7 linked regions of the Homo sapiens genome follow. The protein of the gene in region 5 purifies or fractionates together with the protein of the main gene of each other region. This does not show direct contact. Each region holds a gene or a part of one and is shown on either strand. Other genes may lie near its edges. The genes, in order: SERPINF2, MGME1, ATPAF1, PCDHGA9, HIBADH, NPEPPS and NENF.

Evidence for each region.
Region 1: the proteins of HIBADH (region 5) and SERPINF2 purify together in Homo sapiens (affinity purification with mass spectrometry; one large-scale study listed by BioGRID and IntAct). This does not show direct contact.
Region 2: the proteins of HIBADH (region 5) and MGME1 purify together in Homo sapiens (affinity purification with mass spectrometry; one large-scale study listed by BioGRID and IntAct). This does not show direct contact.
Region 3: the proteins of HIBADH (region 5) and ATPAF1 fractionate together in Homo sapiens (co-fractionation; one large-scale study listed by BioGRID). This does not show direct contact.
Region 4: the proteins of HIBADH (region 5) and PCDHGA9 purify together in Homo sapiens (co-immunoprecipitation; one large-scale study listed by IntAct). This does not show direct contact.
Region 6: the proteins of HIBADH (region 5) and NPEPPS fractionate together in Homo sapiens (co-fractionation; one large-scale study listed by BioGRID). This does not show direct contact.
Region 7: the proteins of HIBADH (region 5) and NENF fractionate together in Homo sapiens (co-fractionation; one large-scale study listed by BioGRID). This does not show direct contact.

The regions. Positions count from the first base shown.
Region 1 is NC_000017.11:1,741,138-1,745,943, forward strand, and holds the start of SERPINF2 (alpha-2-antiplasmin isoform a precursor), read left to right. Parts: upstream 1-1,733; 5' UTR 1,734-1,771; intron 1,772-1,861; exon of another isoform or gene 1,862-1,931; coding exon of another isoform or gene 1,932-1,939; intron 1,940-3,196; exon of another isoform or gene 3,197-3,409; coding exon of another isoform or gene 3,410-3,453; intron 3,454-3,854; coding exon of another isoform or gene 3,855-3,858; coding exon 3,859-3,921; intron 3,922-4,037; coding exon 4,038-4,076; intron 4,077-4,195; coding exon 4,196-4,258; coding exon of another isoform or gene 4,259-4,268; intron 4,269-4,570; coding exon 4,571-4,772; intron 4,773-4,806.
Region 2 is NC_000020.11:17,988,648-17,992,150, forward strand, and holds the end of MGME1 (mitochondrial genome maintenance exonuclease 1 isoform 2 precursor), read left to right. Parts: intron 1-1,291; coding exon 1,292-1,462; coding exon of another isoform or gene 1,463-1,539; 3' UTR 1,540-2,475; downstream 2,476-3,503. UniProt on the Homo sapiens protein: Metal-dependent single-stranded DNA (ssDNA) exonuclease involved in mitochondrial genome maintenance. Has preference for 5'-3' exonuclease activity but is also capable of endonuclease activity on linear substrates.
Region 3 is NC_000001.11:46,665,403-46,670,227, reverse strand, and holds the start of ATPAF1 (ATP synthase mitochondrial F1 complex assembly factor 1), read left to right. Parts: upstream 1-1,905; coding exon 1,906-2,171; intron 2,172-4,349; exon of another isoform or gene 4,350-4,579; coding exon of another isoform or gene 4,580-4,581; intron 4,582-4,825. Other genes in the region: TEX38 (testis-expressed protein 38), read right to left, coding at 750-789. UniProt on the Homo sapiens protein: Has a complex stabilizing activity in the assembly of the mitochondrial F1-F0 complex.
Region 4 is NC_000005.10:141,408,739-141,412,938, reverse strand, and holds part of PCDHGA9 (protocadherin gamma-A9 isoform 1 precursor), read right to left. Parts: coding exon of another isoform or gene 2,274-4,200; intron 1,001-2,273; coding exon of another isoform or gene 977-1,000; exon of another isoform or gene 318-976; intron 1-317. Other genes in the region: PCDHGB6 (protocadherin gamma-B6 isoform 1 precursor), read right to left, coding at 2,319-4,200. UniProt on the Homo sapiens protein: Potential calcium-dependent cell-adhesion protein. May be involved in the establishment and maintenance of specific neuronal connections in the brain.
Region 5 is NC_000007.14:27,645,521-27,649,720, reverse strand, and holds part of HIBADH (3-hydroxyisobutyrate dehydrogenase, mitochondrial isoform 1 precursor), read left to right. Parts: intron 1-87; coding exon 88-248; intron 249-1,096; exon of another isoform or gene 1,097-1,173; intron 1,174-1,790; exon of another isoform or gene 1,791-1,875; intron 1,876-2,511; exon of another isoform or gene 2,512-2,569; intron 2,570-4,200.
Region 6 is NC_000017.11:47,620,242-47,623,776, forward strand, and holds the end of NPEPPS (puromycin-sensitive aminopeptidase), read left to right. Parts: intron 1-1,285; exon of another isoform or gene 1,286-1,526; coding exon 1,527-1,679; 3' UTR 1,680-3,035; downstream 3,036-3,535. UniProt on the Homo sapiens protein: Aminopeptidase with broad substrate specificity for several peptides. Involved in proteolytic events essential for cell growth and viability. May act as regulator of neuropeptide activity.
Region 7 is NC_000001.11:212,431,381-212,436,159, reverse strand, and holds the start of NENF (neudesin precursor), read right to left. Parts: upstream 3,241-4,779; 5' UTR 3,217-3,240; coding exon 3,040-3,216; intron 1-3,039. UniProt on the Homo sapiens protein: Acts as a neurotrophic factor in postnatal mature neurons enhancing neuronal survival. Promotes cell proliferation and neurogenesis in undifferentiated neural progenitor cells at the embryonic stage and inhibits differentiation of astrocytes.

The sequences.
Region 1 (4,806 bases), on a different chromosome or scaffold from region 5:
GGACACTGAGGGTGGGAAGGAGCCTGATGCAGGGAGTGAGGCGCAGGACAGTGAGGGTGGGAAGGGGCCTGATGCAGGGAGTGAGGCGCAGGACAGTGAGGGTGGGAAGGGGCCTGATGCAGGGAGTGAGGAGCCGGACAGTGAGGGTGGGAAGGAGCCTGATGCAGGGAGTGAGGCGCAGGACAGTGAAGGTGGGAAGGGGCCTGATGCAGGGAGTGAGGCGCAAGACAGTGAGGGTGGGAAGGAGCCTGATGCAGGGAGTGAGGCGCAGGACAGTGAGGGTGGGAAGGAGCCTGATGCAGGGAGTGAGGAGCAGGACAGTGAAGGTGGGAAGGAGCCTGATGCAGGGAGTGAGGAGCCGGACAGTGAGGGTGGGAAGGAGCCTGATGCAGGGAGTGAGGAGCTGGACAGTGAGGATGGGAAGGAGCCTGATGCAGGGAGTGAGGAGCAGGACAGTGAGGGTGGGAAGTGGCCTGATGCAGGGAGTGAGGCGCAGGACAGTGAGGGTGGGAAGGAGCCTGATGCAGGGAGTGAGGAGCAGGACAGTGAGGGTGGGAGGCGGCCTGATGCAGGGAGTGAGGAGCCGGACAGTGAGGGTGGGAGGCGGCCTGATGCAGGGAGTGAGGAGCAGGACAGTGAGGGTGGGAAGTGGCCCGATGCAGGGAGTGAGGCGCAGGACAGTGAGGGTGGGAAGGAGCCTGATGCAGGGAGTGAGGAGCCGGACAGTGAGGGTGGGAAGGAGCCTGATGCAGGGAGTGAGGAGCCGGACAGTGAGGGTGGGAAGGAGCCTGATGCAGGGAGTGAGGAGCAGGTGTGAGGGCGGGAAGCGGCCTGATGCAGGGAGTGAGGAGCAGGACAGTGAGGGTGGGAAGGGGCCTGATACAGGGAGTGAGGAGCAGGACAGTGAGGGTGGGAAGGAGCCTGATGCAGGGAGTGAGGAGCCGGACAGTGAGGGTGGGAAGCAGCCTGATCTTTGCACGGGCTGCCAGGCTTCTGGTTCATACAGCCCCAGGTCAGTTTCCAGAACCCTCGCTCTTGGGTAGGGGAAAGAGACATTGCTCTGGAGTGGCAGGACGGTGGGAGAAGTTGAGTCCCTCTCATTTCTCCTCCCTCACCCCCTGCCTTCCATCCCAGTCTGAAGGCAGCCAACCTGATCCTGGGCTTGGAAGGTTGGGGGTGGGCTTCCTATCCTGGGCTCTCTGCATAGGCTCTTGTGGCTTCCCCTTTCCTCCCCTCAGGAGCGGGAGGCAGCTCTCTGGGAGAAGAAAGGACATTGGGAGTGAGAATCTGGATGTGCCTCAGCCCAGCTCTGTGTCCTTGGGCAGGTCACATGGCCTCTCTGAGCCTGGCTGAACCAGGGATAATCCACACCTCGTGGGGTCTCTGGAAGGCTTAACACAGTGCTAGGTTCCTGTGCTTTCTGGATCCGCCCTCTTGGCTAGCCAGATCCAGTCTCTTCAACTCTCTCCTCCTGAACTTTCTCTTTCCAGGCTCGGGGGGGGGGACCCAAATATAGGGGGTTCTGCGTGGCTGCCTCAGGGTTAGATGCCCTGGTGGGAAAGGGGCTTCTGGCTTCAAGATCAATGTTTAACTGGATGTGCAAGTCAATATTTACCAGAAGAGAAAGCAATCTGAACAGGGGTTGGCTGAGAGTAAAGGTCCTGGTGGGAGGGGAGGGGTGGGCTGGGCCAGCTGGAGCCTGGGCAGAGAGTGAGGAGCACCCAAGTGGGGCCAGAGGAACGTTGTGTGTGGCAGCAAGGAGCCCGCAGAGGTATGAGGGGAGGGGCTGCTCGGCCTGCTCCTTGGGTAGGAGAGGAGGAGGGAGCTGCCTCCCTGGCTGAGGGGTCTGGGATTTATTCAGGAGGCCTGTCACTCCCCAGCCTCTTCTGGGACTTGAAAAACTGGAGCCTGTTCTTGGCAAGAAGATTCTAATGCCCAGGTCGGAGTCGGGGCCCTGGCCAAGGGCTCTTGTGTGGGATGGGGGTGGGGCCGGGGGGACCAAAGGATCCTCCAGAAGGGTTGGCCCCAAGATGGGGGTGGGCTGGAGGTAGCTGAGACCTGCTCTGACTTATCCTCCTGAGACCAACACCTGCCCTTCCCAGAGCCAGCCTGGAGCAGAGGCCTGTGATGCTCCTAAGTGCAGAGGTGGCTCTGGCCAGAGTCATTCACTGGGCTCTGCTGCTGGGTCAAAAGGCAGCTCTCTGGCTGCCTTGCCACCCATGGTGAGACCTCAGGGCCTCACAGGTATGTCCAGCCTTGTGGGCAAGACCTGACCAGCCTGAGAAAGACGGGTTGGGGCCAGGCGTGGTGGCTCATGCCTGTCATCCCAGCACTTTGGGAGGCTGAGGCAGGTGGATCACCTGAGGTCAGGAGTTCGAGACCAGCCTGACCAACATGGAGAAACCCTGTCTCTACTAAAAATACAAAATTAGCCAGGCATGGTGGCACATGCCTGTAATCCCAGCTACTCGGGAGGCTGAGGCAGGAGAATCGCTTTAACCCAGGAGGTGGAGGTTGCAGTGAGCCGAGATCGTGCCATTGCACTCCAGCCTGCATGATAAGAATGAAACTCCATCTCAAAAAAAAAAAAAAAAAAAAAAAAGACAGGCTAAATGGATGCAGCAGGCTGGGTAGGAGCTCTGTGTTGGAGCTCTGCGGTGGAGGCTTCAGGGCAGGCTTCCCAGAAGAGGTGGCCTTGAGCCAAGCTGACCCCAGCCATCGGGGGAGTGCCAAGCATTGTACTCAGGGTTTACAAAGATGGTCTTATTTATTTTTTTGAGACAGAGTCTTGCTCTGTCGCCCAGGCTGGAGTGCAGTGGCGTGATCTCGGCTCACTGCAACCTCCGCCTCCCGGGTTCAAGCAGTTCTCTGCCTCAGCCTCCCGAGTAGCTGGGATTACAGGGGCCCACCACCACGCCTGGCTAATTTTGTATTTTCAGTAGAGATGGGGTTTTACCATGTTGGCCAGGCTGGTCTTGAACTCCCGACCTCAGGTGATCCACCTGCCCCTGGCCTCCCAAAGTGCTGGGATTACAGGCTTGAGCCACCGTGCCTGGCCACAAAGATGGTCTTTTGCCGGGTGCAGTGGCTCATGCCTGTAATCCCAGTACTTTGGGAGGCCGAGGCAGGAGGATCACCTGAGGTCGGGAGTTTAAGACCAGCCTGACTAACACAGAGAAACCCCGTTTCTACTAAGAAATACAGAATTAGCCAGGCGTGGTGGTGCATGCCTGTAATCCCAGCTATTCGGGAGGCTGAAGCAGGAGAATCGCTTGAACCTGGGAGGTGGAGGTTGCGGTGAGCCGAGATCCTGCCACTGCACTCCAGCCTGGTCAACGAGAGCGAAACTCCGTCTCAAAAAATAAACAACAAAAAATCCCAAAAAGACGGTCTTATTTTGGTCCTCACCATGCATGTGAGAAGAGTGAGGGACTTGTGCCACCGTTTTACAAGGTAAGGCCAAGCCTGGTGGAGTTACGGGAAATGCCGAGGTCCTTTGGCAAGAGGTAGCCTGGATTCAGACACAGATCTGATTCACAGCGCAGGGCCTTGTAGAATGAGAACGTTTTTGATTTGGTATCTCCCTCCTATTCACCAAAACACCCTCAGTGCATGAAATGCATGAAATATGAAACACCAGAAACTAAAAAGGGGGAGAAGCCAGGGCGGATGTCCCAGCTGCAGGAGTGGGAGCCGCTGCTCGTGTGTTTGGGGTCTGTTCTGATTCTGGAGCCTGCTTCTTCCCCTTGGCAATCATGACCCAGGACTTGGCGTTATCTGTGATCGCGTGGGTAGGATTCCCTGGCGGGCGTGGGGATGTGAGATGGGAACAGAGCTTTCTGTCCCTGCCACAGGAACATGGCGCTGCTCTGGGGGCTCCTGGTGCTCAGCTGGTCCTGCCTGCAAGGCCCCTGCTCCGTGGTGAGGCTGGGCTGAAGTCAAGGTGGGGTGGGGTGGAGGGGGAAGAAGAGGGGCGTTGGCATGGAGGGAGGGCTTGGCTCCGAGGGGACCTCCTATCCTCATCCCTTTCTCCACAGTTCTCCCCTGTGAGCGCCATGGAGCCCTTGGGCCGGCAGGTACTGGGGAGTGAGGAGCCTGTGATGGGGGGAAGGTCCCGGGGGTCTCACTGGTGGCTTGGGCAGGGTGGGGGGCCTGTGGGAAGGGTCGGTCTCCATCTGCTTGCTCCTTTCCGCAGCTAACTAGCGGGCCGAACCAGGAGCAGGTGTCCCCACTTACCCTCCTCAAGTTGGGCAACCAGGTACAACCAGGTGGGGCTGGGGAAGAGTGGGCGGGGCTAGAGGGAGGAGGGCCCATCGGCAGGGGTCGGGGGGTGGGGGCGCGTGCTGAGGCTGAGGCTCTGGAGTCCAGAGGCCAGAAGGGAGAGAGGGTGGGGAGGACCGAAGGTGGGCGCCAGGCCCCAGAATGCCAGTGCCCTCCGTCTGACGCTCCCTCTTCCCTGGGGCTGGGACAAGGCCCTGCTGTCCTCAGGCACAGGGGCTGTGACAAGGCCTTCAACACAGAACCTGGAGCTGACCCCTTGACCTCCCTGACCCCTGATCTGTCCCTGCAGGAGCCTGGTGGCCAGACTGCCCTGAAGAGTCCCCCAGGAGTCTGCAGCAGAGACCCCACCCCAGAGCAGACCCACAGGCTGGCCCGGGCCATGATGGCCTTCACTGCCGACCTGTTCTCCCTGGTGGCTCAAACGTCCACCTGCCCCAACCTCATCCTGTCACCCCTGAGTGTGGCCCTGGCGCTGTCTCACCTGGCACTAGGTACCCTGGCACCACTTGTCCAGACCAAGAGAGC
Region 2 (3,503 bases), on a different chromosome or scaffold from region 5:
GTCTCAAAAAAAAAAAAAAAAACTTCTCAGTGGGGGGGTAGGAGGAGAAAAATTGTAAAAAAAAAAAAAGTTAAAAAATAGAACTCCTTGAGGTTTTTCCTTTTTTAATCTCTATTTTTATCCCATTGCTTAACGTCTTCCTTGTTCCTTTCCCACTTAAAAAAGCACTTTTTGGCTGGGCACAGTGGCTCACGCACTTTGGGAGGCCGAGGCAGGCAGATTGCTTGTGCTCAGGAGTTTGAGTCCAGCCTGGGCAACATAGTGAAACCCCGTATCTACAAAAAAAATACAAAAATTAGCTGGACATGGTGGCGCACACTTGTGCCAGCTACTTGGGAGGCTGAGGTGGGAGGATTGCTTGAGCCCAGGAAGTGGAGGTTCCAGTGAGCCGAGATTGTACCACTGCACTCTAGCCTGGCCGACAGAGCAAAACCCTGTCTCAAAAATAAATAAATAGGCCAGGTGTGGTGGCCCAAGCCTATAATTCCAGCACTTTGGGAGGCCGAGTTGGGCAGATCACCTGATGTCAGGAGTTCAAGACCAGCTTGGCTGACATGGCGAAACCCTGTCTCTACTAAAAATACAAAAATTAGCTGGGCGTGGTGGTGTGTGCCTCTAGTCCCACCTACTTGGGAGGCTGAGGCAGGAGAATCGCTTGAACCCAGGAGGCGGAGGTTGCGGTGAGCCAAGGTTGTTCCACTGCACTCCAGCCTGGGCAACAGAGCAAGACTGTCTCTCTCCAAATAAATAAATAAATAAATAAATAAATAAATAGCACTTTTTGGCCAGGGGTGGTGGCTCATGCCTGTAATCCCAGCACTTTGAAGGAGGCCGAGGTGGGCAGATTGCTTGAGCCCAGGAGTTCAAGACCAGCCTGGGCAACGTGACAAAACTCCATCATTACTAAAAATAGAAAAATCAGCCGGAAGTGGTGCCCGCCTCAGCTTCGAGGGTGCAACGAGCCGAGATTGTGCCACTGCACTCCAGCCTGGACGATGGGAGTGGGATCCTGTCTCAAAAAAGAAAAAAAAAGCACTTTTCCACCCTCTTCTTGGGCCTTTTTTTTTTTTCAATGGCTCTGTAAGGATCACAGCCCAGTCTTCAATGTTTTATCTGTCATCTTTGTGTTCTTGTGTCCTGGTGCAGTCTTTGATCAACCTACCTTAGAAACTGAGTTAGGAGATATCCTGTAGATTATTTTATACTGAGTTTGCCCTGGAGTAAGAAGGAAACGAACCTAAACTCTGGACCTACTGTAGTGAAACGAGAATTGCCCTGTGTTTCTTCCTAGGTTCAATGTGGCTTAATTGTGGTGGCCTACAAAGATGGATCACCTGCCCACCCACATTTCATGGATGCAGAGCTCTGTTCCCAGTACTGGACCAAGTGGCTTCTTCGACTAGAAGAATATACGGAAAAGAAAAAGAACCAGAATATTCAGAAACCAGAATATTCAGAATAGGGAGCAAGTTGCTATTTGGGAACATTCAGCACCTTCTCACAGTTTGGGAACATATATTGCTGTTTACTCCAGTGTAAAAATGAGGTGCCACTGGATCTGAGTGCTACACGAACACAAGTAGAAGTATTAATTTGTTGAAATGTGTTGTTACCAAAAAGACTGAAAAGCCCCAAAGTCTAGATATAAAGACCTAGACTTCGGCACGCGAAATCCCAGCTATGCTACCTCTTATTTACCTGAAAGGAGGACACGCAGGATGGGCAGTCATGCTGGTGACTCTTGTACTCCCTTGAGGGACATTGGGGGGGGGGGGGCGTGGTCCCAGGCAGGATGCCCAGTCTTTGAGCTGAGATTGGAAGGCAGTGAGGCTGAGGGTGCCAAGATTTCCCCAGGGTTCACCCAGAGGGGAAGGGGCTACATGCCCCCAGCTGTGTGCAGGGAGGACACATCAGCCCACTACCGCTGCCAACACCAATGCCTAAAACTTGTTTCATACATTGGGGTTTTCTATATATTTCAGCTGGGAAAAGCTTACATTTAACCTTTTGAAAAAATAAATACGTGATTAGCCTCAACTAAACATTGCTGACTATAAAGACAGTATATTCACCATGTCGCTGGCAATATGTCATTGCGTAACACCAAATAACCCCCCAGAAGTAGCCAGAGGCCAGTTTGAACATCACAATTCTAAGTGTTTTAGTAACTATTTCTGGCGTGAGTCAACAGATCATGTAGATAGAGTCAATTATTGTTTGTGGAGTTTTTCAGCTATAGGGGAGGGGAACTATTAAAATCCATTTGTTTCTATTCAATAGGTAATAAAAATTAGTTGTCCCTGGGTTTGGGAAACTTAAATGCCCATTACAGCCCTGGGGAAGGGTTTTCTGTCTTATGGAGTGAGTCTTAGCATTTAAGTTATACAGTTGCTGCCTTAAAATAGTAGCCTGCTACAATGACTTCTTTGGGTAGCCATTTTCATAAGAAATAAAATACAAGATATGAGTAATGAAGCTTTGGTTTTGTTTACTTTGTGTGTTTATAGGATAATTTTATAAACCTGGAAATTGTTTGCACTTTTTTTATAATTCAGAATTTTACAAGCCCAATAGCTTTGGTGAGAGTTCTGTGTAAGTGCATAAAAGAAAGCGTCCTCGGCTGGGCGCAGTGGCTCACGCCTGAAATCCCAGCACTTTGGGAGGCCGAGGCGGGCGGATCACAAGGTCAGGAGATCGAGACCATCCTGGGTAACACGGTGAAACCCCGTCTCTACTAAAAATACAAAAAATTAGCTGGGCGTCGTGGCGGGCGCCTGTAGTCCCAGGTGCTCCGGAGGCTGAGGCAGGAGAATGGCGTATACCCGGAAGGCGGAGCTTGCAGTGAGCCGAGATCACGCCACTGCACTCCAGCCTGGGCGACAGAGCGAGACTCCGTTTAAAAAAAAAAAAAAAAAAAAGCCTCCTCACTAAGCCCTCAGCCACGGTCACCTAGCAAGGAAAGCAATATTCAGGTAGGAGATGGGAGGATCAAGGGGGACCTTTGTATTATCTCTATACACTTCTGCATTCATGTGGGTTTTTCTCAAGCTGCAGATACATATTTCTGTAGCCTGTAAATTCCAGTCAAAAATGAAGTGAGGCAATTAAAAGTTGTGCTAGCAGAGTTTGCCACTCTGCTCTAATAAGCCTCAACCTAGAATTTAGGAGGCTAGACCTAACAAAATTTCTTTTTATTTTTCTTTTTTTTTTTTTTTGAGACCATCTGGCTCTGTCAGCCAGGCTGGAGTGCGGTGGGCTCACTGCAGCCTCCGCCTTCCGGGCTCAAGCAATTCTCCTGCCTCAGCTTCCCAAGTAGCTGGGATTACAGGCGTGCACCACCATGCCCTGCTAATTTTTGTATTTTTAGTAGAGACAGGGCTTCGTCATGTTGACCAGGGTAGTCTCAAACTCCTGACCTCAGGTGATCCGCCTGCCTCAGCCTCCCGAAGTGCTGGGATTACAGGCGTGAGTCACTATGTCCAGCTGCAAAATTTCATTTTAAT
Region 3 (4,825 bases), on a different chromosome or scaffold from region 5:
GCCACTTTTTTTTATCACTATCACTTTAGTCCAAGTACCACCATCTCTCACTTGGATTACTGTTCCCTGTAGGGTGACCAACATCCTGGTTTGCCCAGGACTTGGGGTGGGTTCTCAGGACATGGGGCTTTCAATGCTAGAGCCAAGAAAGTCCTAGGCAAACTGGAATAAATTAGTCACCCTTGGGAGAGTTTCCATCCTTGCCTCCACATATCCTAAATCCCACCAGCAGCCAGCATGATCCTTTTAAAAAGTAGATCATGTTACTCCACTGCTTAAAACATATAGTAACTTCCGATCTCATTCGATTTAAAATCAAAGTCCTTAACCAAGGCCTAAGCAATCTAACTAGCCCTCCCTATACCTTCTTGGTCTCATTTCTGCTGCTGTGCCCTCACTCATTCAGACTCAATAACCTCCTCATCAGGGCCTTTGCACTTGCTGTTTCCCCTACCTGGAAGGCTCTTCCCCCAGCATTCCCACATTACCTTCAGGTCTCTGCTCAAGTGTCCCCTTATCTCTATCTCTCTTGGCCTGCTGTTTTTCTGCATACCATGTAGCATCACCTAACATTATATATTTACTGTCTGTTTCACTCCACTAGAATGTAAGCTCAATGAATTAATATAAACAAGGATCTAAGAACTTCAGATAATGATAACTGCTATAAAGAGAATGCAATAGAGTGATGGGATAAAGACTATAAAGAGATGGAGGGGTTGTCATTTAGGTCCCTTGGAGGTGCTTACATGTGAACTGAGCCCTTAGATGATGAGGAGGCAGCCACATGCAGATCCACAGAGAAAACAGCAAGTGTTAGGAGTGTGAGCCAGGTATGGGCTGGCATACTTGAAGGACTTATTCATCTTCCATTACACTGTTCCTCGCACAGGGCAGGGCTCAGGGCTGATCTCCATGAGCATAGGTTGGATTGAGCAGAGTTGAAGGCTCTGCCCCTGTCCCAGGAGGGGCTTCAATCAGACAAAACCCAGACAAGAAGGACCTGATGATGAGTACTGTCCCAGAGAGCCCACTCCAGGACTGGCCCTGTTCTGTGAGCAGGTGGGACACAGAGATGTTAATGTCACTGTCCCTGACCCTAGGAGCTCACACCTGGTTCAGACGGTAAGGAAGATTGTGGCATTTGGGTTGAGAGAATGGAAGGAGAGAGGATTCCAGGGGTCAAAAAGGGCCTGAATAAGGACTCTTCAAGGAGTAATCCTGGTGTTTCTTTGGGAGAGAATAGGTCACTGTGGCTGGAGTTCAAGGAGGATGTCAGGAAGCAGAGGAAAAGGAGGCTTGGGAGGCAGCTGCCATCTTGAAAAGAGCTCAGCTGTCGGGTAGAACTTGAACAAGTCACATAATTACTCTCGGCCTCAGTTTCCTTATTTGTTAGATGAGGATAATACTGCCACACAGAGTATGAAGCCGCTCAGTGTCCTGCACATAGCAACCTCAGTAAAGAGAAGCTTGCTGCTGTGATTATAGTTGATGAAAAGACCTTCGATGCTGAAGGACGGACTACTACATCGAGTGCCTGGCACTACAGCGAGTGCCAGGGGCAAGCACCGCGAGGACATGGAGATCCGCTGGCTTTAGAGAACGGACTTGGCGCGCAGAGGCTGCTGGTCCCAGAGGGAGGAAGGGCGTTGAATTTGGGCAGCCTCCCTGGAGGAGGCGGGCCGTGGCATACACAGGGCGGCGAGAGCGCGCAGTGCCGGGGCCAGAGCGGCGCGCCCCCTCCTCCCCGCCCCGCCTCGCCGCTATCCCGCGCCCGGAACCTTGGGCGCGCGGAACCTCGGTGCCGGAGCGCGGGCGCGGCGCACTCGGAGCGGGATGGAGCGGGCGCGCGGGCCGCGGGCCGAGGCCGACGCGCCTGAGGAGGAGGAGGAGGCGGGGGCGGCCATGGCTGCTGTGGTGGTGGCGGCTGCGGGTGGCGCGGGACCGGCGGTCCTGCAGGTGGCCGGTCTCTACCGGGGCCTGTGCGCGGTGCGCAGCCGCGCCCTGGGCCTGGGGCTCGTGTCACCCGCGCAGCTGCGCGTCTTCCCAGTGCGCCCCGGCTCGGGCCGGCCCGAGGGGGGCGCCGACAGCAGCGGGGTCGGGGCCGAGGCCGAGCTCCAGGCCAACCCTTTCTACGACCGCTACCGCGACAAGATCCAGCTGCTGCGCAGGTGCGGGCCTGGGTTGGCTGGAGGCGGGCAGGAGGCGGGAGGAGGGGCGGCCCGGGCTGCTGGGCCTTAGGACAGCCCTGTGAGGTGGGCACTAGTACTGTCCCAGCTCTTCAGATGATGTAGCCAGGCTCCGCGAGGCTAGGTCACTTGCCCAAGATCACACAGCTAATTGGTGTCAGAGCTGGGAGTCTCTGCAAAGCCCTGGCTCGTTCCACGTTTGTCTGCTTTGGTTCTCCAAACGCTAAGGTGGACTCTTATGACAGCCCTGAGGCAGGCAGCTCAGAGACACCTGTCCTCATTATAGAAATGGGAAAACGCCTTCTAGAGAAGGGACTTGACTTGCTCAAGGTCACATATTAAGATAGCTGAGGCCTGGCTCAGAGCTGGAGTTCCCAGGCTGGTGGTAGCTTAGGGCCTTGACTGCAAGGAAAGGCGACTGGGGATGGGAGGAGGGCATCAAAGACTAATAGTGTCACAGTCGGATCACCCATTGAACCCTCTTAAGGAGACTGAGGATCAGCGAGAGTAAGAGACTTGCCAAAGGTCACACAGCTGTTTGGGATTTGTCTGACTCTGAGTCCAGGGTCCCTAACACCACCTCTTAGCTTCCAGAGGGAAGGATCTGGAGCTTAGAGGGGCTTAAGGTGCATATGAGGGGCTATAGGAGCATCTGAAGAGTTCAAGTGGGAAGAGCTAAAGGAGATCAGAGGTGAAAATTAAAGGGGCTTGGGAGAGAATTTAGCAGGGTAAGAAGGTAGTTGTCTTATGAAAGGAAACCAAAGACTTAGTACTGTAAATTTGAGTTCTGTCTCATCTCTACTTCCACTGCCTTAATCTACTCCATCATCGTCACCTGGGCTGTTGCCATTATCCTCTAACTAGAGTTCCCTACTTCCATTCCTGGACTACTTTACCCCAGTTCCTCTCACTGCTACTGTAGTGATCTTTCTTGCCATTTGAAACAGTTATGCAGTAAATGAATGAGTATTTTTGCTCTCCTTCCAGCAGCATTGAGATAGTCTCAAGTATTTGTCATCTTAAAAGCCTTTCTTTGATGTACATTCCCCTCCAGGCTTCTCTCGTTGATCTGTATTTGATCTGTTTTACACACAAGCATCTCTGAAGAGTTGTCTACTTGTACTTTGAATACTTTATCAGCATCCATTTATTCTTACCCACTCATGAACAAATAAATAACTGGTTTTACCGTCCTTCCCCACTGGATCATTCCCATCAACATTTACACATACTGTTATCCCCCCACTGACCTCTAAATAACATCCAAACTCCTTAATGTTTCACACAAGTTCCTCATACCCTAGTCCCTGCCAGTCTCTCTCTAGTTTTATCTGTTAGCAAACTTCCTTTGAAAAAGAATGGAGAGGAGGGGATGTTCCAGGTAAGGGGAGCAGCAACATAAACAAAGGTACAGAGGCATGAAACCACCTTAACCATTTGGGGATGTTTGAGCAAATTTTCATCATAATACCTGTTGTACTTTCATTTGTTTACTTTTATGCCTGTCTCTCCCACTGGATAGTGAGCTCCTTGAGGTAGGGAGTCTGACTTATTTATTTCTATATCCTCAGATCCCAGCAACAGCTTCACTGCCCAGGCTGTCCCTTGCCCTCTCTACCCCTTCACTATGGCAGGCCCAGTTGCAGCTGTAGCCACTAGCAGGGTTGACCCTGGTCCTGGTACAGCCCCCAGGGCTGCTTGCAGCTCTGGCCAGGCAGGTGCCATGCCCGACTAAGCAGAAACCCCTGGTGAGGCTCTTTATTGAGGAGGAGCCGGCCCACTACAGAGAGAAGAAAAACATCCCATCTACATGACAGTGAAGGGAGTGGTGTTTTATGTCACCTCCAGAAAGGAATTTTATGGAAGAAGGGGCCCCCTATAATGCATTGACCAGGAAAGTCCACCAGAGGGATAGCCAAGATGTCCCTGGGTCCTCCAGACCTCACCCATGAAACTCTGGGTCTCATGGCCAAAGAGCTGGAATCCCTGGATGATATCTTCACCAAAGTGTACAAAACCAAATATCCCATGGTTAGCTACACAGTCTGAAGAATTCTTAATAGGGACAGCACCCCAGCCTGGACTTCAAACCTGAAGACCAACCCCATTTTGACATAAACAATGTGTTCTGTTGTTTCATCTCCAAGAGCAGCTTCTTTGGAGGGTAGGTTAGGGAGATACTCAGATGCTAAATCTTCTGCAAAATAGGCTACCTAAAGCCTCTGAATCACCAGGATCTGAATAAAGCAGATGTTTAACCTGGTTGGGGGGACATATTTTCAAGAACTGGATGTATTCAAGTAAAAGCTTGACACCTAGTAAGGAGGCTATAGGATTCTTGTCTGAAGAGGTGATCCAGCAAGATGACCTCAAAATTCTAAGTACCCTGAATGTAAGTACCTGAGAGACTAAGCCCTGTGTAAACCTAGGGAACAGCCTGCAAAAGAAAAATGTTACACAGGCCCCTTGAGGATTAACAACAGTTGAATAACAGGATTTCTTTTTCCAGTTTCTTTATTTCTAGGCCTGTGCCCAGTTCTTACTAACTGAAGGCAAATTTTTCAACCTCTCTGAATGGCAGTGTCCTTTCTCTGTAGAGGTGGAAAGTGATGCTTTGTTATTTTAGAATTCAAAAA
Region 4 (4,200 bases), on a different chromosome or scaffold from region 5:
AGTCCTAAGAAGTTACTGCACCCAAGTGATACATGCAATGGAAAGTAAACTATTCTGTTGGATTATTATATTTTACATAGATTCTTTGGTTTCTCCACTCCTATCTTTAAATAATTTACTATATGTAGGTTTCTTAGGGGAGGTGTGATAAAGTGGAGTGAAAATATTGTAAATATTTCAAGATAATGTTTGGTTAAATATATATTTGCAACACGTTTTCCCAACAGAAATGTACACACTTTAATAAAAGGTAAATAATACTTATTTTAGGTCATATTAGTGTCTAGGTAAATTCAGAAAAGTCTTATAATTTAAAATTGTGATTTGAATAGGCCAATTTTATTTAGTATACATTCATACAAAGATTATATTAAATAAACTCATGAGATAATTCACTCTGAAGCTTTATAATTGTAACTACTTAATTCATTAAACTTATTTAGCTTAGGATTGTGTAAGAGGTTTTTAAAGTACTCTTCTAGAATAGTTTTACTGAGCCTTAATTAACCTTTTTGTGTAAAACATACTTTATCTTACAGGGATACAAGTTAAATGGACCTATTTAAATGATTAAGCAGGTAATCACAAACTAAAATGAACATATATTACAGTTGCAAATTAAACTGTTTGCATTGTAATGAGAAAAGAAATACGTAGAATTTGAAGTACTAAAAGTTTTAGAAAACAAAGTTAGATGTAGTGATATAGGTTTTTAACAAGTAAGTGTTTATGTCAAATGACCTGTTTTCATCAGAGCATTAATACCAGTATAAATAATCTCTTCTCTTAGGCAGTTTGTATCAGAGGCCAAAGTCCAGTGGTTCACATATCTTCAACTGTGTGTGCCCATCAACCCAGTAGCAATTGTTCCCTCAAATGCAAAGGGTATAGAAGTTCACTTCTTTCACACAGAGAACAGGATGTTCAGAAGTGTTTATGTCACTATGCCTTCCAAGTATAGAACTCTTCAAAGATTTTATCTTTTTTCTTCAAAAATCTTCTATCAGAGAATCAGAGACAGAGACTGAGTGCAAAGGCAATAGTATTTCATTTATTTCTTAGAAATGTCTTTTTTTTTTGAGACAGGGTCTCACTCTGTCACCTAGACAGCTCACTGCAGCCTAGACTTCCTGGGCTCAAGCGATTCTCCCACCACAGCCACCAGAGTAGCTGAGACCACAGGCATGTGCCACCACACCCTGCTAATTTTTAAATGTTCTGTAGCGATGGAGTCTCCCTGTGTTGCCCAGGCTGGTCTCAAATTCCTGCGCTCAAGAGATTCTCCACCTCCACCTCCCAAAGTGCTGGGATTACAGCACACTTGGCCCTGCCTGCATATTTATTTATTTATTTTAGAGACAGGGTCGCACTCTGTCGCCCAGGCTGGAGTGCAGTGGCAAGATCAGGGCTCACTGCAACCTTGACCTCCCAGGACCAAGCAATCCACCCAGCTCAGCCTCCCAAGTAGCTGGGACCACAGGGGAATGCTACCACACTCTGCTAATGTTTTTTTTTGTTGTTGTTGTTTTAGTAGAGATGGGGGGTCTCCCTATATTGCCCAGGCTGGTCTCAATTCTTGGGCTCAAGTGATACTTTCCGATTCAGCCTATCAAAGTGCTGTGATTATAGGTGTGAGCCACTGGGCCTGTCTTCTGAATATTTTTAGGCTTTAAAAATATATAAATAAGATATCGTAAATTCACTAAGTCTTCGCAAATTTGAATAGATAGGTTACTTGTTTGTTTTCTTAGATGCCAAGACCACTGCTTCTGTTCGATAGTCAGAACTTGACAAAATATTGTGGCTCACGCCTGTAATCCCAGCACTTTGAGAGGCCAAGGTGGGAGGATCACGAGGACAGGAGTTTCTGAACAGCCTGGTCGACATAGTGAAACCCCATGTCTACTAAAAATACAAAAAATTTAGCTGTGGTGAGGGGCACCAGTAATCCCAGCTACTTGGGAGGCTGAGGCAGGAGAATCGCTTGAACCCAGAAGGCGGAGGTTGCAGTGAGCAGAGATCACGCCACTGCACTCCAGCCTAGGCAACAGTGCGAGACTCCATCTCAAAAAAAAAAAAAAAAAAAAAAGACAAAGACAAAATATCTTCAGTCTGGTGACATTATTTTACAAAAAGATAGAGCAACTTATGAACCAAATACATAGTGAAAACTATAATTGAAAAAACATTGAGAAAATATTGTAAAAAGCTATGGATTTTAAACATATGATTCTAGATATGAAAATAAAGTAGTATGCCTAAAATATGAGAAACTAGTAGACTATTAGATAAATCACACACAAAAAAGAGAAACTCACCGAAGTCAGAGTCTCAGGATGTGAAGTCAAATCCTCCCCACCATGAGGTGGAATTAAGGCTCCAGGAGAAACACTGCAAACCATGTCTTCATTGGAATGTAGGGGCACACTGCATTTTAGGAAATTAAACTCTTTTGTACCCGTATGTGCAATGCACAGATTATAAGAATAAGGCAAAGTCCCCTCACTGTAGTTGGGGGGAACTACAGGTCCAGACTTGACACAGAGACCAGGATGGAAGCAGTCCCAAGTAGCAGGGCTGAGAGAGCGTCGCAGGCGCAAGGCAATGGCCAGAATCACGGCGAGGAGGAAGAGCACTGAGATTAAGGCCAAGGCCACCACCAGGTAAAACTGCAGTTCAGCCTGGGGGTCAGAGAGTACAGGGCGGTCGCTGAGGTCTGGCAGTATCTCTTGCAAGTTGTCTGCGAAGACCAGATGAAGCGTGGCGGTGGCAGAGAGTGGCGGCTGTCCACCGTCACGCACAGCGACCAGCAGGCGCTGGCGGGCTGCGTCCCTGTCGCCTAAGGCTCGAGCCGTGCGCACCTCCCCAGTGCGCAGCCCCAGGCTGAAGAGTCCGGGCTCACTGGCCTGCAGCACGTGGTAGGACAGCCAGGCGTTGTGTCCCGAGTCGGCGTCCACCGCTACCACCTTAGTCACTAGGTAGCCGGGCTCTGCAGAGCGAGGTACCATATCGAAGAACGCGGAGCCGTCAGGACCCAGAGCTGGGTACAGCACCCGCGGTGCGTTGTCATTGCGGTCTCCCACCAACACGCGCAGGCTCACGTTGGCGCTGAGCGTGGGCGAGCCGTGGTCGCGGGCCTGCAGCGTGAGCGCGAAGGCGCGCAGCTGCTCGTGATCAAAGGCGCGCTGCGCGAACACCACCCCGCTCTGCGCGCTCACTGACACGTATGACGACACCGCCAGGGGCTCTAGGTCACTCGCCACTATAGAGTAGGAGATGTGGCCATTGAGCCCCAAATCCGGGTCAGAGGCGCTCACTTGCGCAATGGAGGCTCCTGGCGGGTTGTTCTCGGCCACGTGGACCACGTAGGACGTCTGGTCGAAAACTGGGGCGTTGTCGTTGATGTCAGCGACATACAAGGTGATGCTTCTACTGGAAGAAAGAGGCGGCTTGCCCCTGTCAGTGGCTACGATGGTGACATTGTATTCTGGTGTCTGCTCTCGGTCCAGGGCTCCATCTGTCACCAGTTTGTAGTAGTTATTGGAAGAAGAATAAATCTTGAATGGAATGTCTGTTTCTATATTACACCTGACTTCTCCATTTCCTCCGAAATCCAGATCCCGTGTTTTGAAGAGGGCAACAACCATTCCTGGAGGTGAATTCTCCAAAATCTGATCAGAGAGAGAAGTGATGATTATTTCTGGGCTGTTGTCGTTTTCATCAAGGATTTCTATGATTACTTTACACTGGGTAGAGAGACCACCTCCGTCCTTCGCTTCCACTTCCATGGTGTACCTTTCTACATCTTCAAAATCAAATGACTGGTTATTCTTAATCATACCTGTTTTCTCATCCAATGAGAACATATGTTTTGTGCTCTGGGCAGTGCTTCGGAAGTAGTAGTTTATCTCAGCATTGACCCCCTCATCCTGGTCAGTGGCTGTCACTTGCAACACAGGGGACCCAGGGGGCAGATTTTCACTAAGACTAATTCTATATTCGTCTCTGCTGAAAACCGGGGGGTTATCATTGGTATCCTTGACAGAAATTTCTATGTGAGCGGTGGCACTTCTTGGTGGGTCCCCTCCGTCCAAGGCAGTCAATATCAAGCTATGAGATCTCTGTTCTTCCCGGTCTAGGAGTTTCTCCAGAGATAACTCTGGGTATTTGCCACCATCGGAATTAACTCTAACCATTAAT
Region 5 (4,200 bases):
ATCTAACAATTGACTTGCTAATATTAAATGAATGTTTACAATAAAAAATGTTATTTGCCCCTATTGAAAATAATGTATTGAAATCAGTGTGTTCTAGGTCAGTGGCTTCAAAGACTCCAGTTGGATTCATTGGACTGGGCAACATGGGGAATCCAATGGCAAAAAATCTCATGAAACATGGCTATCCACTTATTATTTATGATGTGTTCCCTGATGCCTGCAAAGAGTTTCAAGATGCAGGTGAACAGGTAAGACCTTTTCTTTAGATTTGTTTTAGATTTTGAGAATGAAAAATGAATATACATTCAAATAAGTGACAGCTTCTTAGAAGTATACCCAATGGAGTTGTAAACCTAATTCAGTGTTAATTTTATATATATGTAATCATTCATCCAACATCCAGATTTGCAGTAAAGGAGAGTTCTCGTTAGACATTCAGGGGTATCTATTCTTTGGCAGGTGACTTGGAACATTTTGCACATTTGGTCAGAGGGCCTTGTTTTAGCTCTGTATCAGTTTTCTGAGATAGTAACTTTACTGATTGTGCTGTTAAAGTAGTTAGTTTGGTGGAAATAACCTCCTGTGTTATTAAAAGCACATATGTCTTTAAAACAAGAGTAGGCTTAGAGATATAAAGCTTAGTTTGAGTTGAAGCTCAGATACATGCTTTCTTACTGGGGGCAAGTTACATCACTTCTGCTGATTTCCTCATTCTTAAAATGTGAACGATGACAACCTATGCCATTAGGTTGTGAAGCTCAAATGAGAGAATGTATGTGAACATACTTTGAAAACATCATATGGCAGCACTTTGTGAATAATTATTAGTTATTGGCCATAAACCAGGAGACAGCCTAAAAACACTATGTCCTATAATGAAGAGTTGAGTTATAGTGGATCTCTAGTGTTTTTAGGCTATCATTCATGTTTAAAGAATTTTGGTACCAGAGTTTATCATGTTGGATGATAACATCTGCTGGTTAAGTCTTGAGTTGTTTGGATTTGTTAAACTTTATCAATAACTCAAATTACAGGAGACCATGTATCAGTATCCGAATATAGTTTGTTTTTTCTAGATATGAGGGAAATTCTTCTTGGTCAAGTTGTAGAGTGGTAACTGAGGATAGTGTGTGATCCCAGAACAGAGAATACTAAAAAATTCCTGAGAAAAAGGTGAGAAAAAAATTACACAGCCAGCTTCTAGATAATAGACTTGAAAGTAAATACTGAAAAATGCTATACCTAGTTACAGAACAGCTTTAGGTAACTTAGAAGCCATTTTCAGAACTATATATCTGAATCTTTTTCCTTTCCATGGTTTTTGTGCCATATGGAAATTGCAGCAGTATAGTGTGAGGATGGAAGTATGACTTTGGAACTTTTCAGGGTAGTGTTGTGGCTGCTTCTGCCTGTTCAGTCTCTGAATACGGATATTACACTCCCAGTATAGCAGGCTTACAGGCTTAATTAATGTAGGGACTTAGTAGCCTTGTTGGAGAGATTTGATCAGTCGTATAGTAGAGAATCTGGGAAAGGCGGCCTTTTACCATCTTCAGAGATGGTGAGCATTTCAAGTTGATATTCAGTCTGAGATGAACCAATTAGTAGTTATTTTGAGGAGACAGTTATTACTTTTTGGGATAACACATCTATTTGGTATTGCCATTTTACAGTGGTTTATCTGTTAGTAAGAGTAACAAGGGTACTTGATCTCTAAACAGAGGAAATATCTTCAATTAAAAACAGAATTTAACCAAAGAGTGGGGTAGGAATTGAATGGGGACTATTACCCTAGACTGGCAAAGCAGAAGCTTGTGACCTTTTACGTTGTTACAGACACAGGTACTCTTCCCTCTATGCCTGTAGTACTTCCAGCTTGTATGTGGAACGACTGTAATGATCATCACTGCTTTGTGACTCTCTCCTGCTTTTTCCCAGAATTCTAGAGCTTTCTGATGCTCTGCCTGAATTACCTCATACTCTGAAGTTACCAGGCTTACCTCTGTTTCCCAACAAGTTTCTTATTTCTTTAGTGTTGCTAATTTTAGGTAGGTATGAAGGAAGGCTGCCTTAAGAATAAGGCTTATCCCTGCATGAAGGAGATATTTATGTTTTGAAAGGGAGAGAAAAGAATCTAATACAGTATTTAGTGAGCACCTACTATGTGTCAGGTCTTTTGCTAAATATTTTGTATGTATTATCTCATTTTATCTTTGCAACAGAAGTGCTATCAAGAAGCCAATGCTTGGAGAAGCTAAATAATATCCCTAATGTTATATAGTGGTTCTTATTATCTGCAGTTTCACTTTCTACGATTTCAGTTACCTATGGTCAAATGTGGTCTGAAAATGTTAAGTACAAAATTCAAGAAATAAACAATTTATAAGTTTTAAATTGCATGCCGTTCTGAGTAGCATGATGAAATCTTGTGCTGTCCAGCTCTGTCCCAACCTGGATGTGAATCATCCCTTTGTCCAGCGTCTCCATGCTGCAGACACTCCCTGGCCCATTAGTCACTTACTAGCCGCCTCAGTGATCGGGTGTTGTGATATCGCGTGCTTATTTTCAGGTAACCCTTATTTTATTTCATAATGGTCCAAAGCGCAAGAGTAGTGTTGCTCGCATATTGTTATAATTGTTCTATTTTATTGTTGTTGTTAATTTCTTACTGTGACTAATTTATAAATTAAACTTTATCATAGGAGTGTATATATAAAGAAAAACTGGCTGGGCGCAGTGTCTTGTGCCTATAATCCCAGCATTTTGGGAGGCCAAGGCAGGCGGATCACCTGAGGCCAGGAGTTCAAGACCAGCCTGGCCAATGTGGCGAAACCCCGGCTCTACTAAAAATACAAAAATTAGCCAGGCGCGGTGGCGTGTGTCTGTGGTTTCAGCTACTTGGGAGGCTGAGACATGAGAATCGCTTGAGTCCAGGAGGCGGAGGTTGCAATAAGCCGAGATTGCACCACTGCAGTCCAGCCTGGATGACAGAGGGAGACTCTGTCTCAAAAAAAAAAAAAAAAAAAAAAAATGCTGGGCGTGGTTGTGTGTGCCTGTAGTCCCAGCTACTTGGGAGGCTGAGGTGGGAGGATTACTTGAGCCTAGGAGGTTGAGGCTGCAGTGAGCTGTGTGCTCCAGCCTGGGTGATGGAGTGAGACCTTGCCTTAAAAAGAAAAAAAAACAAACCAGAAAACATAGTCTATATGTTTATATAACATAGTCTGTATAGGATTTGGTACTGTCTGTGGTTTCAGGCATCCACTGGGAGTCTTGGAATGTATACCTCTCAGAGGAGGGGTTACCACTGTGTAGTGAATGAATAGCAAGAGCCAATGTCTAAACAAAGGTCTTTGACTTCGGAGTTTTGGTTCTTTTTGAAATTAATGTGAAAGACATTTTTGAGTGTGTGTATGTGACATCTGTGTTGATGATTCTGAAATGTAGCTACCTGTTAACCTATTTATAAACTAGATTGCTGGAAAATAAGGTGCCTAGATCAGTCAAGCCACTGATCATTGGTCTCCCTTGCCTTCTCTTGTGTGGTTCTGTACCCACGGAGTTACAATTTAATAATATTTATCTATTGTATGGGTTGTTTAGTGGGTTGAATAGTGGCCCACCTCCCCAACCCCCAAAGATGTCCTATAAAATTGTTAGGAGAAAACACAGAGGTAAATCTTTATGACTTTGGATTTGGCGAAGGATTCTTAGATATGACACCAAGAGCATGAGCAACAAAATGATAAATAGGTAAATTGGACTTTATCAAAATTAAAAACTTGTGCTCCAGAGAACACCATCAATAAAGTGAAAAACAATTCACAGAATGGGATAAAATATTTGCAAATCATATATCTGATAAGGAATTTGTATCTAGAATATATGAAGAAGTCTTACAACGCCAGCATAAGACAAGTAACTCAATTAAATGGGCAAAGGATTTTAATAGACATTTCTCCCAGGAAGATATATGAATGACCCAGTAAACATGTGAAAAGATGCTCAACATCATTAGGCATCGTAGAAACATAGTCAGAACAGCCGGGTGAGGTGGCTTATGCCTGTAATCCCAACAGTTTGGGAGGCCGAGGCAGGTGGATCACTTGAGGTCAGGAGTTCAAGACCAGCCTGGCCAACATGGTGAAACCCTGTCTTTACTAAAAATGCAAAAAAAATTAGCCAAGTGTGGTGGTGTGCACC
Region 6 (3,535 bases), on a different chromosome or scaffold from region 5:
AAAAATGGAAAGCCTTCGAATGGTTTATAAACAAGGCAGTGCCTTGATCTGATTTGTGTTATAAAAATTTCAGTCTGGCTGCAATGTGGATAATAGTTTGGAATGGGGAAGAGAAGATGTTGGGAAGCTAACTCTCCTAGCAAGAATGATAGAATAGCTTACAGTAGGGTAGTGGCAGTAGTGGAGGAGATGGAATAATGGAGATTCAGGGGCTTGAATTTGTTAACCATTTAGTTCAACAATATTTATTGATTGGCTTCTCTGTTGTGAGCATATCTGGGAGAGGAAGAAAAACAAGCCAGGATAATCCCCAGGTTTCTGGTGTATAAATGTTGGTACTACTCTGCGATGGAATGGAAAAAGACTTGAGGCCCTGAGAACTGAACCATGATTAGGAGCCTTGGAACAGTAGCAATTGTCATCTGTGTAAATAAGGTTATTGATTTCTAAAAGGTCTATGTTTAATCAGATGGATTAGTCATTCTGTCTTTCACACCTGTGGTGACTAATTCAAAGGAAAAGCCCTATCATTTTGCCAGCTGGTGTTTAAGAGTTGCTTTGTTTTCTGTGAAACCAGGTGTACTGCATTAGAAAAGTTTATTCAACTTTTAATCATTAAGCATTGTGATAAATTGTAAACTTAGAAATTGTTTGGTTTACTGTATTAAAAATGTTGGATTCCTGTAATTCCAGCATTTTGGGAGGCTGAGGTGGGAGGATTGCTTGAGTTCAAGAGTTCAAGACCAGTCTGGGCAACATGGTAGGACCCCATCTCTACAAAAAGGAAAAAACAATTTGGCCTGGGAGTGCACGCTTGTGGTCCCAGCTACCCAGGAAGTTAAGGTGGGAGGTTTACTTGAGCCCAGAAGGTTGAGGCTGTGATGAGCCATGATCGTTTCATTGCACTCTAGCCTGGGCAACAGAGTGAGACCCTGTCTCAAAAAAAAAAAAAAAAAAAAGACCATGGGGTGTTAAATTATTAGGGCATAGCAGCAATTTAAACTTCTTTGTATTATCATCCCTTACAAATTAATCTTTATTTGAAGCAGCCAAAATGTGTTGAATCCTTAAGTACTCTGTGCTAGGTATTTTGTCAAATGTTTATATGGATTGTCTCTTTAATCTTCTGGAGTAGATATTTTCTCATAGTTGAGAAAACTGAGACTTAGAGCAGTTAATTTTCTCACAGTCACAAGCTAGTACATGACTAAGCCTGGATTCAGGTTCCAAGTCTTCATTCCAAAGACTATATTTACCACTACACAATTAGCCTAAAAGAAAGGCAGTAGGTTCTGTCTCTTTATTAACTTTTGATTAGGTTGTTAAGCATATAATTAAGGGGAGAATTCCTATATGCAGGTCCAAGGAGTTGCTTGTTTTCTTTTAGCCTGAGGGTGGCAGTGGTAAATTCTCATGCCTGAAGATTATGCATCCTTCATATAGACCAGTGGGTATTTTTTCATAACCTGTAATATTAACTTCTTATTGCTAGTAATGATCCTGCATTCTGGGTTGTTTTATACCAGGCTTTCTTCGAGAGTCACCCAGCTCCTTCAGCTGAGCGTACCATCCAGCAGTGTTGTGAAAATATTCTGCTGAATGCTGCCTGGCTAAAGCGAGATGCTGAGAGCATCCACCAGTACCTCCTTCAGCGGAAGGCCTCACCACCCACAGTGTGAATCCTGAGGTGCCGCCATTGGCGGTTCTGCTGCTTCGCTGCAGGGATAAGGTGGAGCTACCGAACAGCTGATTCATATGCCAAGAATTTGGAGTCTTCTTTCAAACCAGTGGGGGTTGGACAATGAATGTAGTTAACTGGTTCCTGCTCACACTCCAGAATTAAATTCTATTGAAAAAGGAAAATCAGCAATTCAGCAAAAAATAAATAAAAAATAAAAATGTAAATATGATAGTAATAAAATAGAGCATAACGAAACTGTGAAACTTTCTGAAGCCTTGTCAGTGGTTAAAAGTATTTAACACTCTACTGTTAATGACAGATGTTCTGTTTTTATAACCTACCAAAAGGAAACTAGAGGCTTCTTGGTGAAGAGCATTTTTGTGAAGTGGGTTCTGCAAGGAGCCTATAAAGCCAAGGGTGGTGTCCATTTCTGGGAATGGTTAAACACAAAAGGCTGATAGCTGGTATCACATAGTTGGAGTCAGTGCATAATTCCAAGTGGCTTTTTTTTTTTTTGGCACGGGGACTGATCAGGAAGATATATTCCTGCATAACTCAATCTGAACCAAGGATTGTAGTTTAGTTTTCCTCCTTGCCTTCCCTTCTGTGTGACCGACCCCTTGGCCAAAAAAAAACAAAAAGCAAAAAACAAAAACCTACCCTGTTCTGGTTTTTTTCCTCCCTTTAGTTCCACCCCCAACCCCCATTCCCTGGTGTCCTTCTTAGAGATGAAGAAATAATAAGGAAACATCTTTCATAGCCACATTAAATAAGAGAAACTGATATACATTATTTTTTTCTTTTTAAAGATGACTTATAAGAACCCTGAAATTTATATAGGTGAGACAATAGAAATAAAAAGATCTTCAGCCAGGCCTTTCTGAAGGAGTTATTCTGCTAAAAATGGTCTTAGTTGTCTGAAAAGCCAGCTCTTGAACCTCTTCACAACAGTATCAACACTGGCTTCTCCCGGTTCATTTTATGCGTGCGAGAAGTCAGTGGTAACTGCTGCAGGGCTTAATACATTAGTGGTAACTGGTTTAAAAAACAAAGACTGTAAGCCTGTGTGTGCCACTGTTTGCTTCAACAGTATATCCTAATAAGCCTCACCTATTTAATCCAATGAGTTTTAAATCTAAATCTCATTCCCTTCTTCTTTCCCTACCTTTTTTTTCTTTTTTTCTTAAAAAAATATTTTGTGTTATTAACAGAAATTCATATTTGGTGTGGCTTAACGGTATTTCAGAAGGTCATCAGATTGTGAGACTGCTTCCTTGAAACATTTTTGTGCTATTGTTTTAAAAAAATAATTAAAAAACAGTTGGCGTTAATAAAAATGTCAATGTGAAACTGATGTCCTGATTCACTTTATTCTCTTTCTTTGATAAGAAACTAAAAACTTTCCTATCATTCAGTAGGCTTATGCAAAGTTATACTATCATAGGATTTTTCAAATTCAAAAAAAATCCAGTTCCTTAATTCCTAATTTATAGATCTTAACAGAAAAATCCTGAGATTCATTCTAAATCAGTTCTACATTCTCAAAACTCTCTCAGAGACTCTTATAGTCAGCATTCAGGAATGAACTTGAGACTTCCTCAGTCCCTAGTTTTGAGGCACCCTAGTTCAGGCACCATGCTCAGGGCTGCCCTTAGGCTCTCAAATGTTCTTAAGGCACCAGTGAAGCAGGGGCACCAAAAAGACTGAGAAAAATGCAGGTTTAATTGAAGAACTCAGAATTTTGCAATCAGAAATTCTGGAAACAGGTTATTTTACTTTCAGCATACATGTGATTTTTGTCTGTAATAATAGTTAAGTAGTTTGAATTACGTTCAGGGAGAGGTTATACTAGAT
Region 7 (4,779 bases), on a different chromosome or scaffold from region 5:
AGTTGACCCTTGAACAACACAGGTTTGAACTGCATGGGTCCACTTATATGTGGGTTTTCTTCCACCTCTGCCACCCCTGAGATAGCAACACCAACCACTCCTCTTCCTTCTCAGGATGCAGACCTTTATAATGATCCACTTTCACTTAATAGTAAATATATTTTCTCTTCTTTATGATTTTCTTAGTAACACTTTCTTTTGTCTAGCTTACATTACTGTAAGAATTCAGTATATAATACATTTACAAAATACGTGGTAATCGACTATGTTCTTGGGTCTTGTGGTCAACAGTAGGCTATTAGTAATTAAGTTTTGAGCCAGGCATGGAGGCTCACACGTGTATTCCCAGCACTTTGGGAAACTGAGGTGGAAGAGTTGCTTGAGCCCAGGAGTTTGACACCAGCCTGGGCAACACAGGAAGACCCCATCTCTACAGAAAATTTAAAAAATAGCCAGGTGTGGTGGTGCACACCTGTAATGCCAGTAACTGGGAAGGCTGAGGTAGGAGGACTGCTTGAGCCCAGGAGGAGGCTGTAGTGAGCTGTGTTCCTGCCACTGCACTCCAGGCTTAGCAATAGAGTGAGACCCTGTCTCAAAAAAAAAAAAAAAAAAGGAAAAAAACTGTAGTTTTGGGGGTAGTCAAAAGTTATACATGGCTGGGTGCACACCTGTAATACTAGCGGCTTGGGAGGCTGCGGCAGGAGGATCGCTTGGGCCCAGGATTGCCAGGCTCTAGTGCACCATGACTGCCTGTGAAAAGCCACTCACTCCATTCTGGGCGACACAGCAAGACCCTGCCTCTAAAAGAAAAAAAAGTTATATGCAGACTTTTGACTGCATGGGGGTCAGTACCCCGAACTCCTGTGTTGCTCAAGGATCAACTGTATAGATATAGATATCCAAATGGTTCTGTTCCCTGGTGAAACCTGGACTAATCCAAGTATCTTACGAACAAAGTGGAGACTCAGAGAGGTTTAGTAATTTGCCCCAAATCACACAGCAGAACAGGGACTCAAAACCAGGTATGATCCAATGTATTATACAAATTGTCACACTTCTGAGTGAAAGGGTGTTATTAATAATTATCCCTGGATAACAGGCATAGACCAGAACAATCTAGGTCAAACAACAGCGCAGCACAGCTTGAACCCACTGCACTCAACTGCCTCTCTCGTCCCTCGCTCCCCTCCTCTCTCTGGCTCCTTCCTTCCACCTACAGAGATCCTCAGGCTCCACTCCCAAAACAATTGTTTCCTACCCCTGTTTCCATCTCAAGGTCCTCTCTCTCTCAGTTAAATTTCAATCTATAACATCAACATCAAAAAACCAAGGGTCTTTTCTCAGTCCTCATCTTGCAGTTCTGGCACTCTTGCTGTAACCTCAGTGGTGAACTCTCTCTTTCCTTAGATTCTTGTGCCAGTGGTCCCAAAGATCATCGGGTCAGTTGGAGAGTCCCTAGAAGGAAGATTCCAAGAACCCAGCATATAGTTCTACTCACAGCTGGGAAGGAAAAACACAGAGGGAGAATCTAGGGGAATCTATGTGCAGGTTTCCTATGCTCTCTCCCTCCCATGAGGAAGAGCACACTCTTCCCCCAGCAACAAAACTTGACAGTATGTGCCATTCTTCTGGCAGAACATTCCTCTGCTAGAGATGCCCATTAGACTCAGCACCCAAGGTTTTCACTGGGGGCTGGTCACATGGGGCACCCTCTGCCTAGCATATACAGTGTTCAATACTAACCACACCATCTGTATATACGGCCTAGGCAAGTGAGTCCACCGTTATTGGGTAGGGAAGGGTGAGAAATCCAGACACTAGACAAGTCCCACCCTTGCAAGTAGGCTTTTCTAAGGAGAGCAGGCCTGCCATGTTAATTCTTTTCTGCACGGATGCCTGGACTCTGAACCATCTGGTTCCCTCTGCTACCGGCAAAAAGGCATCCCTTAACATCCTCACATCCCAGCCATGTCTCCCTCCCTCGGTGTCCTCACTGACTCATGGTTCTAAATGGCCCCTTCACAAATGATGCCCAAACTGGCATCACTGACTAAGGGCCAGGTTTCTGATACCCCCATGCAATCCTAGTCCATATAAGGCCAATTAACTCAGGAATTAGCGAGACCAGGCCAGAGGGTTTTGAAAAACATCAGGCCTCTTCCTGCTCTACCACTAACAGGTGGCAGGCCTCAGTTTCCTTATGTGTAAAAGCAGGAGATGGGTTCCTGCCAGCTCTGAAATACTATGGTACTATGACCTCCCCCCAATGCCGTTCCCCCGCTCCACATCTAATATCAGCCCCCTGTTGGTCCTTGTCGTGCGGCTCCAGTCCCAACCAACCCAGGTGGGCAGGTGGTTGTGAGTTTTCTGGACGCCTCTAGACTATTGACGTGTGTGGGTGTGTGTGGGCGGGGGGGTCTCTATTGACGTGTGGCGGGGGGGTTGTGGGGGTCTCTAACCTCCAGTCCACCCTCTGCGCTCACTTCCAGCTTTGGCTGAGCCCCAGGGGTACATGACCTAAAAGTGGGTTTGAGGAGTCCGATGCAGAGGCCTGGGATACAGGGGCAGGAAAAGGAAGTGCAGGCAAAGACTGGCTTATCCCAGGACCTGTCTCAATTCCCACCTAACCCAGGGAGCAGGCTCTGCTTCCCTCCCTCCGTCCCCCGCCACTCCCCACTATGCGTGGGCACAGTAAACGCCTCGGCTGATGCTAACATGAAAACCAAAAAGTTCTGAGGTCTGTACGCAGATCATCAACGAAAAGGCGGCTAGAGGGGAAATCTCCCGGGGACCGAGGGAGAAGTTCAGGGTGGGGTGTGCGGGCAAAGCGGAGCGCTCCGACTGTTGAGGACTCGTCCTCACCCCTCGGCCATCCTTCGGGGCCTAGAGAGAGGAGGCCCCCCGCCGGCCCAGGGCGCCCGCCGCGGGCCGCGCGTCCCCCAGAGCTTCCTGGGCCGCCGGCGCCTCCTGGGTCCCCGCTCGGCTCGCCGCAGATCGGACGCCACCCCGGGTCCCTCGGCCCGCGACACCCCCGCCTACCTCCTCCCCGCCATAGCGGGCCAGCTCCTCCTCGGTGAAAAGCCGCACTGGGGGCCCCCGCTCGGCAGGGCGCGGTGTCTGCCCGGCCCGGGCTGTGGGCAGCCCCGGGGCCAGCGCCAGGACCAGGGCCAGCGCTGCCAGCGGCCGCAGCCGCCGCCGCGGCGCGGGGCCCACCATGGTGAGCGCGCAGCGCAAGGCAAGGCCGGGCCAGGGCGGCGGGGCCCTAGCACGCCCGCCCAGCGTCCCGGAGTCCCGCCCCGCGCCCAGAGCCTCCCCGAGGGCGGGGACCCGAGAACTCCCGCCCTTCGCGCGCCTCCTGCGCCCCGGGGTGGGGCTGGCCGGGCTACTCGGGCCACGCAGCTGGAACCTGGAAATTAGGATTGGAATCCTGAACTCCTAAATCCAAACTACAGACTGGAAGTTACCAAAAAATGTCACAGTGGTTCCTTGATCAGGTAGAAAGATGACAGAGCCCAACATACCAGAACCTAGAAAGGTATATTTCTAAAATAAGACCCCAACTGTCTTAATTCGCTTTTATTTTTGGCTGATTTTTTTTCTTCCTGGTTGTGTTTAAGTTTCTGGTTCCCAAGGAGATTTTTGCAAAGGGTAGGGTGCTGTTACCGATACGCCCTGAAATAATAATAGCTAACATTTGTGCCAAACTTTGCTCATTACTTTATGCAACAAATATTTTTGAGTACCTCCATGTACCAGGTCACTGGGGACTCACCACTGAACAAGACAGATCCACGCCCACGTGAAGCTTACATTGTGTGGGCAGATAGACAATAAGATGCTAAGTAGTATGTTAGATGGTGGTAAATACTAGGGAGAAAAAGTAGGGCAAAGAGATAGGGAGCACTGGGATGGACATTTTATTTTATTTTATTGTTATGTATTTATTTATTTTTGAGACGGAGTCTGTCGCCTACGCTGGAGTGCAGTGGCGCCATCTCGGCCCACTGCAACCTCCACCTTCCGGGTTCAAGTGATTCTCCTGCCTCAGCCACCAGAGTAGTTGGGATTACAGGCACCCACCACCACGCCTGGCTAATTTTTTTTTTTTTTAATTTTTAGTCGAGATGAGGTTTCACTATATGCTGGCCAGGCTGGTCTCGAACTCCTGGCCTCAAGTGAACCATCCACCTCATCCACCCAAAGTGCTGGGATTACAGGTGTGAGGAACGGTGCCCGGTTATGGGGATGGTCATTTTAAATAGGCAGGTTAGGGAAGGCCTCACTGAGAACAGGGTATTTGCATAAAAATCTACAGGAGGCGAAGGAGGCGGTCTAGAGGGAAGAGCACTTTGGTCAAAGGATCAGGTGCATAAATGCGGAGGAATGAGGATGCCCGGCTTGCTGGAGGATCAAGGGAAGGTAAGAGGGGTAGGTGAAGTCAGGAAGGAAGCGGGTAAGGGAGTGGGGGTGGATCTTGGGGGCTTCACAGGTTATTTTCAAGACTGGCTTTTACTTTCAAGACTGGAATAGAGGAATTAACAGAAAAAGGGTCTCATTCCAGACCCAAGAGCAGGTTCTTAGACGTCCACGGCAAAGAATCAGGGCAAGTCGCAGAGCATAGTAGTTAAAATAGTTCATTAGAAACTACTCCATTTCTAATAATAGTACTACTGTGTTTCTGAGTAGTATCCTTGCTTTGAAGTAGTACTAAGCAAGTATTGTTTATATAGGAGCACCTCTGCCTTCAATGTAATGCTTGCTTTTATAGGGCTAAAACTA